Regions from separate parts of the Homo sapiens genome. Here region 1 is linked to region 2. Evidence: fine-mapped expression QTL. A gene starts in region 2. The other region holds a variant in brackets. All regions are shown on one strand. Distances are between the middles of the regions.

What was found.
Region 1: its variant is fine-mapped to the expression of VRK1 in testis (GTEx, PIP 0.96). The same link has a PIP of 0.9 or more in thyroid.

What each region holds. Positions count from the first base shown.
Region 1 is chr14:96,826,033-96,830,434 of GRCh38, forward strand. All of the region lies in intron 1 of VRK1 (VRK serine/threonine kinase 1), which reads left to right. Among named protein-coding and RNA genes, the nearest start is that of VRK1, 31 kb to the left of the region's middle. The variant T/C (reference allele first, on the strand shown) is at 2,351.
Region 2 is chr14:96,795,516-96,799,917 of GRCh38, forward strand. VRK1 (VRK serine/threonine kinase 1) reads left to right here and starts at 1,867. Exons shown (of 13, transcript NM_003384.3): 1 at 1,867-1,932. RefSeq lists silencers at 1,749-1,948, 1,959-2,248 and an enhancer at 2,193-2,724.

The DNA of each region.
Region 1 (4,402 bases), 31 kb after region 2:
CTCTTCAGCAGAAGGTTAAAAAAAAATTCCAAATTTGAATCCAGGACTTGAAGAATGCCAGTTGTCTAAATACAGTACCATATTGTGATAAATATAGCTATTGAAATTTTTAAAAATCTATTCACAAAACTTTATTTTAATATTCATAGCAGAACTTTTTTTGGAATGTTATCTGAAAAACAGAGGACCATTTTATCATCAGAGCTGACTATTAATTAGGGTATTGTTGCAGATATAAAAGTTGATCTGCCACTGAAATTCTATTTGAATATGTATAGTTCCAAGCTTGCTTTGTGTATTTAATAACTTTAGTACCATAATTACTCTGTTTACAATTAAATTTTGGTGAATATGCTAATATGGAATATACCAATGAGTGATTTCAGCAAAGGGCAGTATTGATTTGCATCTTGATGTGCTTTTCAGTTGCATCTGCATTTCATTTAATATCAGAGGAAAAGAAGTGGTCAGATTATGTAATGCTAAACTTTTTTTTCTTTGAAACCTCTCTGTTGCATTGGCTACTATAAAAGTAGACTTGCATAGAGTCAGAGGGGCTGAAATTATGTGGAAAGATTTAATTTTGTTAAAGTTTGTGCCTTTCGGTATATTCATTAATAGAAACCTTAATGCAAGCATCGGTTTCATTATTAGAAGAAACCTATAATGTACTAAAGTGATTGTTTAATTCTAATTAGTATTTTAAGTTCTTCAGAAAACTCACTAACTTACTGAAGCAAATACTTGTGATTATTTTATTTCTTTGAGCAGGGACTTCTGGTTTTAAATAATTCCTCTTTTAAGAAATTGCCTGAAAAGCAACAAGGAGATTGAGAAACAGTGATTTCATATTCTGAGAAACTGAGAAGCTTCTGTAGCCCTGAACTAGAAAATAAGGAGCTGCCAAATTCAGTGAAGGTCAAACAGGGTATGGGAGGATGCTGAAAGGGAACCTGAGACACAGATGTCAGGAAAGCTGGCAGAACTGTGTTCTCTAAAGAAAGGGGCACACCCTGAGAGGCACATTAATAAGCCTTTGTCTGGGAGAACAGGAATAGGTGTTGGCAGGCAGGGGCACTAGGGAACTTTATGGTGTGATGAAAATGTTCTGTCTGGTGGTCGCACAAGTGTATGTACGTTTGTAAAATTTTGTCAGTTTACTTTGTGCAAGTTAGTAATTTATTGCCTCTCAACTCCAAATTCACCCCTTTTTGCTCTATTTATATACTCGAGCCAGACCTTTTAAATATTTTTTCTTTTCCTGGACAGTGTTAGATTTTGTCAGTAGAAGGTGAGGAAGGGATACTGCAAGACTTAGCAGAGAAAGTGCTTCTCTTGTTGCCATGTGCTTGTTTTTTTGTTCGTTTGTTTGTTTTTCTTAATCTCTTAAGGTGTGGCTGTCAGCTCTACTTACTCTCCTGTAAGCTTCATTAGCACCCTGGTAGGCAGCTTCTTGCTCCCACCAGTATCTCGTGGGCAGCAGATTCCTGTGGATAAGCTGTAGCTCACTGGCCCTACAGAGAACTACCCTACCGCTCAGTGGGTCACTGCCACAGTCTGTCCAGTGAAGTGTTCCTTTCTTGGGCACTCTCCCTTAGCCTTGGAGACAGTAACTGCTCCCTATATTTGCTAGTTCCATATTCCTTCAAATTGTCTTTTACATCTATTAGCACTTGACAACTTTTTACAAATTAATAATTTTTTATTTATGTTACATTTTCTTGTTTTAATTGATTGTTTGTTTTCTAGCTCCTGAATGGACACTGACTGTTATCACACACTTGTGATTTGTGTACCTTACTTACTGTGTTAATTTTACATAAATAAACAGGATGAAATAATAAGTATACTTCTTGATTACTTTCTATAACATGAACCAATTGTTTAAACACCAAGATTGGGATATAGAATGCTACCAGATCCCTAGGAACCATCCACCTCCAGCCATTTCTTCTGACCCTTAGTCCCCAAAGTGATATCTGCTGTTTGACTTGTATCACCATTGATTTGTTTTATTATTGAAATTCATGTAAATGGAATATAGTATGTACTCTTCTGTCTGGTGCTGCTTTTTCTTAACACAGTGTTTGGTATGTCCATCCGTCTTACTATATTCATTTTCCTGTTGTTGGACATACAGGTTTCCAGTTTGTGGCTGTTGTGAATAAAGCTGTTATCATTCTTGTACATGTCTTTGGGTGGACATGTACATGCATAGAAGTTGAATTGCTGGGTCGGTTAGCAGGTACTGCCAAATGAATTTTCAAAATGATCGAAACAGTATACAGTGTAGGAGAGTTCTGTTTGTTCCAACTCCTTACCAACACTTTGTAGTGTCAGACTTTTGCAG[T/C]TGAAGTCTTCAAAACCTTAAGGAATAGATCAAATGCTGCTTAAACTCCTTAGATTGTGGTAAAGGAAGAAAAGCTTCCAAAATCTTATTATGAAGTGAGCATAATATTGATACTTAAACAGATAAATGTAGCAGAAAAAATAAACTACAGACCATTCTTATGAATATCAGTCTTGTCTATGGCTATACCACCCTGAGTGTGCCCGATCTCGTCTAAATATCAGTCTTGTTCCTAAATAAAATATTAGCAAATAGAATTCAGCAGCACACTAAAAAAATTATAACTGCCACCAAGTATAATTTTTTTTTTTCTAGGAAGGTTGTGTTAAATAGCTCTATATGAGTATGTGGTATACCAGCTGTATTTAAGTCTTTTGTGTTTCTCAAGATGCTAAAAGATAAGTATTGAACAAGTATTTATTAGTACACTGCCATTGGCCCTGCTTATACCTGGCTGAAGCAGGCCCTAAGGATTGACAGGGCCTTTGGTTGCCTGAGGCCACCTGAGATTATAGGGGCCAGCAAGAGCAAGAGGGAATCCTCCACATCTTTTTCCATTAGAAGCCACAGGAGGGAGTTTCATTTAGATACATTTTAAAGAAATATTTCTGTCATAGTGGCCTCTTGCAGAGCAGCTGAGTATATTTCAGTGACTTCTTAACGTTTATGCGCAAGACACAGAGCTACTCTGTTTAATATACAACATATAAGATGTGCCTGGAAATAAAAAGCAAGACTAATAATTCAAAAGAAAAATGAGCCGAGGTTACTCATAGTTTACAGGAAATAAAGTACAGATTTTGCTTAGGAGTGTTTTCTTTTAATTTTTTTTTTTTTTTTTGAGAGGGAAGTGGGAATGGACTGGGCATGCTCATTGAGTATGAGAGGATTTCCAGTTTTGATCCCTTGGTGAATATTAATTATAGGAGCAATAATCATTTTGTTAAGGAACCTGGTTTCTTTTCATGGGAAGTGGTATTTTAAGACTACAATTTGTTTGCTAGGGATGCTCTTTGCTGCTGGGTTGATTATTGTTTCTAAGCTTTTTAGTGAATGGGGCTAGGAAATACAAAGATGTGTTTCTGTGTATGTGTTTATTTTAAAGATACATTCTGAACTAAAAATATTTCCAAGTACAGCATTTTTACCTTTACCTATTCTATCTTTTATCTCTGTCTCTTTCTTCCATATCTGAATCCTGATGTTCAGGGACACAAGAGAATGATAGAATAATAATATCACATAATTACTCATTTGCATCATTCCACATGTATGCACACAACAGTCTTAGTTAACAAAATCAAGTATCACAATATGATTTCTGGAAAGTTGCCTTTTTTGCGTATGTTATCCCATTTTTTGATAGTTGTACTATATCTACAGTGTCAGTACATTTGCCCATTATATACTCTTTTCTCTCTTTTATAACCCTTGTTGAGTCTCAGTTCTACAAGTATATATTTACTGCTCACTGATATTGACATTTCTTTAGTCATTTTGGATATTGCTATGGGAGTGGCAGACCCCTTCTACTGGGCTTCTTCTCTAGTAGATTCTTATTGCTGTTTTCTATATTGATAACACTTAGCAGTCTTTATACTCGAAATTTAGCTGGGTATAAAATCTTTGGTTCATGTTTCCTTTCTTAGAGTCTTAAATATGTTACTTTTTTTCCCCTGGCATAAAATGTTGCTGTTAAAGTGATGACAATTTGATTTTATTTTCCTTATAAAATATCTGCAGATGCTCAAAAAGTATTTTCATTTACTATTAAGTTAACTAAATTATATCTTGGTGATGGTCATTCTGGGTTGATTTTTCAAATGTATGTGATATGACCTTTCAAAATGTAGTTTTATGTTTAAATGAAGTTCAGGAAAGTTTTCTTGAATTAAATGATTTTTAATATTCTGTTCCCTTGCTTTGATTTTCTTTGTTATATGTATGTTGGTTTTTTTGTGTATGTTTTCTTAAACATTTTTTGGTCCTTTTTGATTTTTTTGTTTTTTTCCTTTTCACTTTCTATTTCTCTTGTCATTAAAAAGTTTTATT
Region 2 (4,402 bases):
TGCAATGAGACTATTTACAACGGTGTTGGGGGTAGGAACCACGAGGGAGGATGCAGTAACTTGTGGGTCAGCAGCAGCCGTGATGTCATCACTTCCAGACCTGAGGCACAAAGGGAAGGGCTACTACCGCAAACTGGAGGGAGGGCCAGGGAGCAGTGACCTTCAGCTGAGGGACCTGCCAACTGGAGGTGACCTTGCCAGTCAGGATCCAGGGGCTTAACCTACTCTAACCAACCTTTCTTTTTCCTCCAATCTTCTGTGGGGTTCTCCACTGGGCACGCCCCAAAGCCAGGGGGCACAGGGAGCGCGAAGTAATTTGTAGAGGTCAGCCTCCTGGGGCAGAGGGCAGGCAGGAGAAGTATTTGGAGCAGATGAGGGTATCTGGAGGGGAAAATGTAAGACATCAGGCACAATATTGCCCTGTCTAATGGACAGAGTGATTCCAGGTTTTGTAGGGACTGAAGCTCACATAATTTTGGGGGATCTACTTTAAGAAAAATCAGCTGGGTGTGGTGGCTCATGCCTGTAATTCTAGCACTTTGGGAGGCTGAGGCGGGGTGGATTGTTTGAGCTCAGGAGTTCAAGACCAGCCTGGGCAACATGGTCAAACCCTGTCTCTACAAAAAATACAAAAATTAGCCAGAAGTGGTGGCCTGTGCGTGTAATCCCAGCTACTCGGAGGGTTGAGGTGGGAGGATTGCTTGAGCCCAGGAGGTCGTGGCTGCAGTGAACCGAGATCGCGCCAATGCATTGCAGCCTGGGTGACAAAGTGAGACTATATCTTTAAAAAAAAGAAAAAGAAAAGTAAAATCGACAAATAAACCCCCAAAGCTATGTAAACTCATTGAGGGACCTGCGCAAGTGAGGTCCTGAAGCTTACGCTTCATTGGCTTCATTGTTAATCTCCCTCTGCCTGTGACTTCAGTGATTTTGACCTAGAACAATGACCCAGTGCCCAATAAGCTCTCAGCCTCATGGGTGATGGAGACTTAGCTGATTATAATAAACACAATGCGGCCGGGCGCGGTGGCTCACGCCTGTAATCCCAGCACTTGGCGAGGCCAAGGCGGGCGGATCACAAGGTCAGGAGATCGAGACCATCCTGGCTAACACGGTGAAACCCCGTCTCTACTAAAAACAGAAAAAAATTAGCTGGGCGTGATGGCGAGCGCCTGTAGTCCCAGCTACTCGGGAGGCTGAGGCAGGAGAATGGCGTGAACCCGGGAGACGGAGCTTGCAGTGAGCCGAGACTGTGCCACTGTACTCCAGCCTGGGCGACAGAGTGAGACTCCGTCTCAAAAAAATAAATAAATAAAAATAAATAATAAACACAATGCAAACTGTGGCATACGTTGATTACAGATGAAACACTATAGATGATTAGGTAGACATTGAGATATGCTTTGAAATAGGCTTCGAAAAACAGGTAGGATTTAGACACATATCAATGAGTGGGCAGAATAATACTAACACTATCTGCTATTTATTGAGCACCAACTAAGTTTAAAGTACTGCCTATAGATTATTTCATTTAATCCTAACAGAAACAGGAAACTTATTTTACACCCAACTCTCTGCCAATACACTTAATAAATCAAGCTACTACGAACAAGGCTGTAAACCACATTTCCTAGAAGACCAGGGAGCAGAAGGACGGGGATCTCCCTTTGCCGCTAAGAGACTCCAACTCCCAGGATGCCTTGGGAGCGCTGGACCACAGCTCCCGGCATTCCCGGGGAGGCGCGGGGCTAGCGTAGCCTCCGCCCCGCGCCTCGCGTTACCACTCGTCCCGCCCCTCCTCGTCGCCTCCGAGCCAATGGGAAGGCTCCATACTGCAGGGTGCGAAGGGGCCGGCGCCGCTGCCGAGTTACGAGTCGGCGAAAGCGGCGGGAAGTTCGTACTGGGCAGAACGCGACGGGTCTGCGGCTTAGGGTAGGGAGGCCGCAGGCGACACGGCTCGAGGACTCGCGCGCCGAGCCGGGGGCGCGGAGGCGGGCGGCCGGGGCTGGGGCCGGCACTGGGCCTTCCGGGCGGCCTGTGGGTCCACCGGGGTGCGGGAGTCGCCGTCAGCCTCGGTCGCCCCGCGGGACCGCGCTCCGCCGCGTGGCTTCCGCCTGCGCGGGCGTCCGCTCCTTCCTTGTCTCGTTCAGGCCCCGCAGGCGCCCCCGGGGATGCCTGGACTGGCCAGGCCGGCCCCCATCTGAGCTCCACGTTCTGGACGCGCGTGGTGTCGCGGCCGAGCTCGCAAACGCCGCCTCGGGCCTCACCGGGAAGCCGGTTCTGTCAGGCGGGGCTCCGGGTGAACAGCGCAGGCGAGGCCCCTGCCCCGCAGAGCTCACTCTGTAGAAGGGAAACAACACACGCAGCTGCGATGTTTTGCGGATACGGAAATGCTTTCTTAGAAACGGGACAGGCAGTTGCGGGCTAGAGGAATGGGGGCGAGGCTCTTTAGGTTAGGTGATCCGGGAGGGCATCTCAGAGGATGTGACCTTTGACTTGAGACCTGAGAGGGGAGGCCGACCCCTGAGGATAGCAGCCAGGCCTGGGGACCGCGAGGCCGCCCGTTATTTCCCTGTCACATCGCGGGGAGGCCCCGTGATCCTGTACTTGAGGGTCTGTCTGGTGCAAGGCAGTTAGAGCCGCTTGTGTGTTTTGCAAGGGACTTTCATAACCGTTTGACAGTTCCTCCTCATTCTGTCCTTACCTGGCAGGGTGGCATCCTTTACTGTTGCAGCTCCATTCAGGGGCAACGCATAGTTTTTCCTACCACCGAAATAGTATTGTGGTTCTCGTCTCAAAACTCTTAGGTGGTAGAATTAAATTCGACAGACAGCAGCAGAGTCAGACACTATAGGTTCCTGTTGAGGCCACCCATTTTTCTGATGTCCTTTCTTTCAAGTCACTCATTTTTGTTTTCCTTTGTATAGACTCTTCCCTTCCCTTTCCTGTGTCCCTTTCTTGGAACAACTTGGAAATACAATTTGCTATTGGGAGGATGTTGGTTTTAGGGAACTGTTGAAGAACTTCATTAATTATTGTGTGTGTGTTTTTCTTTTCTTCTTCTTTTTTTTTAAACTGGAATTGCCCATCTGTTGAGACTGAAATTCAAGAGTAAAAAAAAGTAGGGCAGCATTTATTTTCAAGAGTTGACAATAAAGGCACCTTTCTTTATGACATGCTGAGCATGATACTTTGGGGGAGAATTTAATCTAGAATTTTGAAGCATTTTCAGAAGGAAGCAAGGGTTCTTTATATAGTCATTTTATGTAGGTTACGTTTATGTTCTTCAAAATGGCATGTAGTGATTGGAATTAAATTTCTGGGTAGATAAGATTATGTTCATCTGTTACCTATAGAAGGGAATGTAACTTAAGTAGTCACTTAATAATAGCTTTCTCTGTTGATGCTACCACAGATGGTATTCTCTACATCTCAACATTGCTGATCAGATTCTGTGTTAATACAGTAACACAACTTGAATTTAATAACAATAAACTTGTGTTAGGCGTTACTGTCAATTTAGTTCTGGTATCCAGTACAAATACCAGTTTTATAGTGCAATGTCTTCTTGTTATGTTCAGTGCTGCAAAAATTATGAGAGGATATTTGTTAAACAAATGAGATAATGGAGTAATGTGTTAAGCATAGAGCCTGGCATATAGTAAGTTAGTAAGTGCCCAGGAAATGGTTATATGGAAAGCTTATGCTAAGTTTTATTCCAGTATGCAAGTGTGTATTTTAAAAATAACAGTAATGCATTCAAAATGTTGACAGACCCTAAAATTAAATTTCTTAAAGGAAATAGGCCAGCTTTTTTTTTTAACTTTGAGAACTAATGTGAAATAATAATAAATATATAAGTGAAATGTCCCAGATGTCTAGAAATGAAAAAACAAGATTTTAATTTTGACAGCTATATTTTTTTTTCTTAAAAGCATCCCTAATAAGATATAATGTACTATGATTAGGATTATGATTTGAAAAATAAAACTTTAAAAATATTTTTGATTTGAAAAATAAAACTTATTTGGAAATGAAGCGAAGCTTTAAGATTTACCTTATATCAAATGAAGGATGTCTCCTGAATTTATGCAAATGTGCAAATGCTTATATCTCCGTAGATCAGGCAGTGAGCCTAATGGGAATTAAATGCTGCCTCTTTGTGCGTGTGAGTGAGGCTTTCATGAAAATTGCTCTTGATGGGTTCTGAGAATGGATTGGTAGCTGAATAGGACTGGAGAATATTTTTCAGACTGGTAGGATATTTTACATGCTTGCCAGGGTTATTTTTCGGAGTAAGGAGAAATGGACTCATTTATTCAGCAGAGATCACGTGCCCCCTATTTACAAGGAATTGTGCTAGGTGCAAAGTCTATTGCTATTGTAGTGTTTTGCTGAAGCA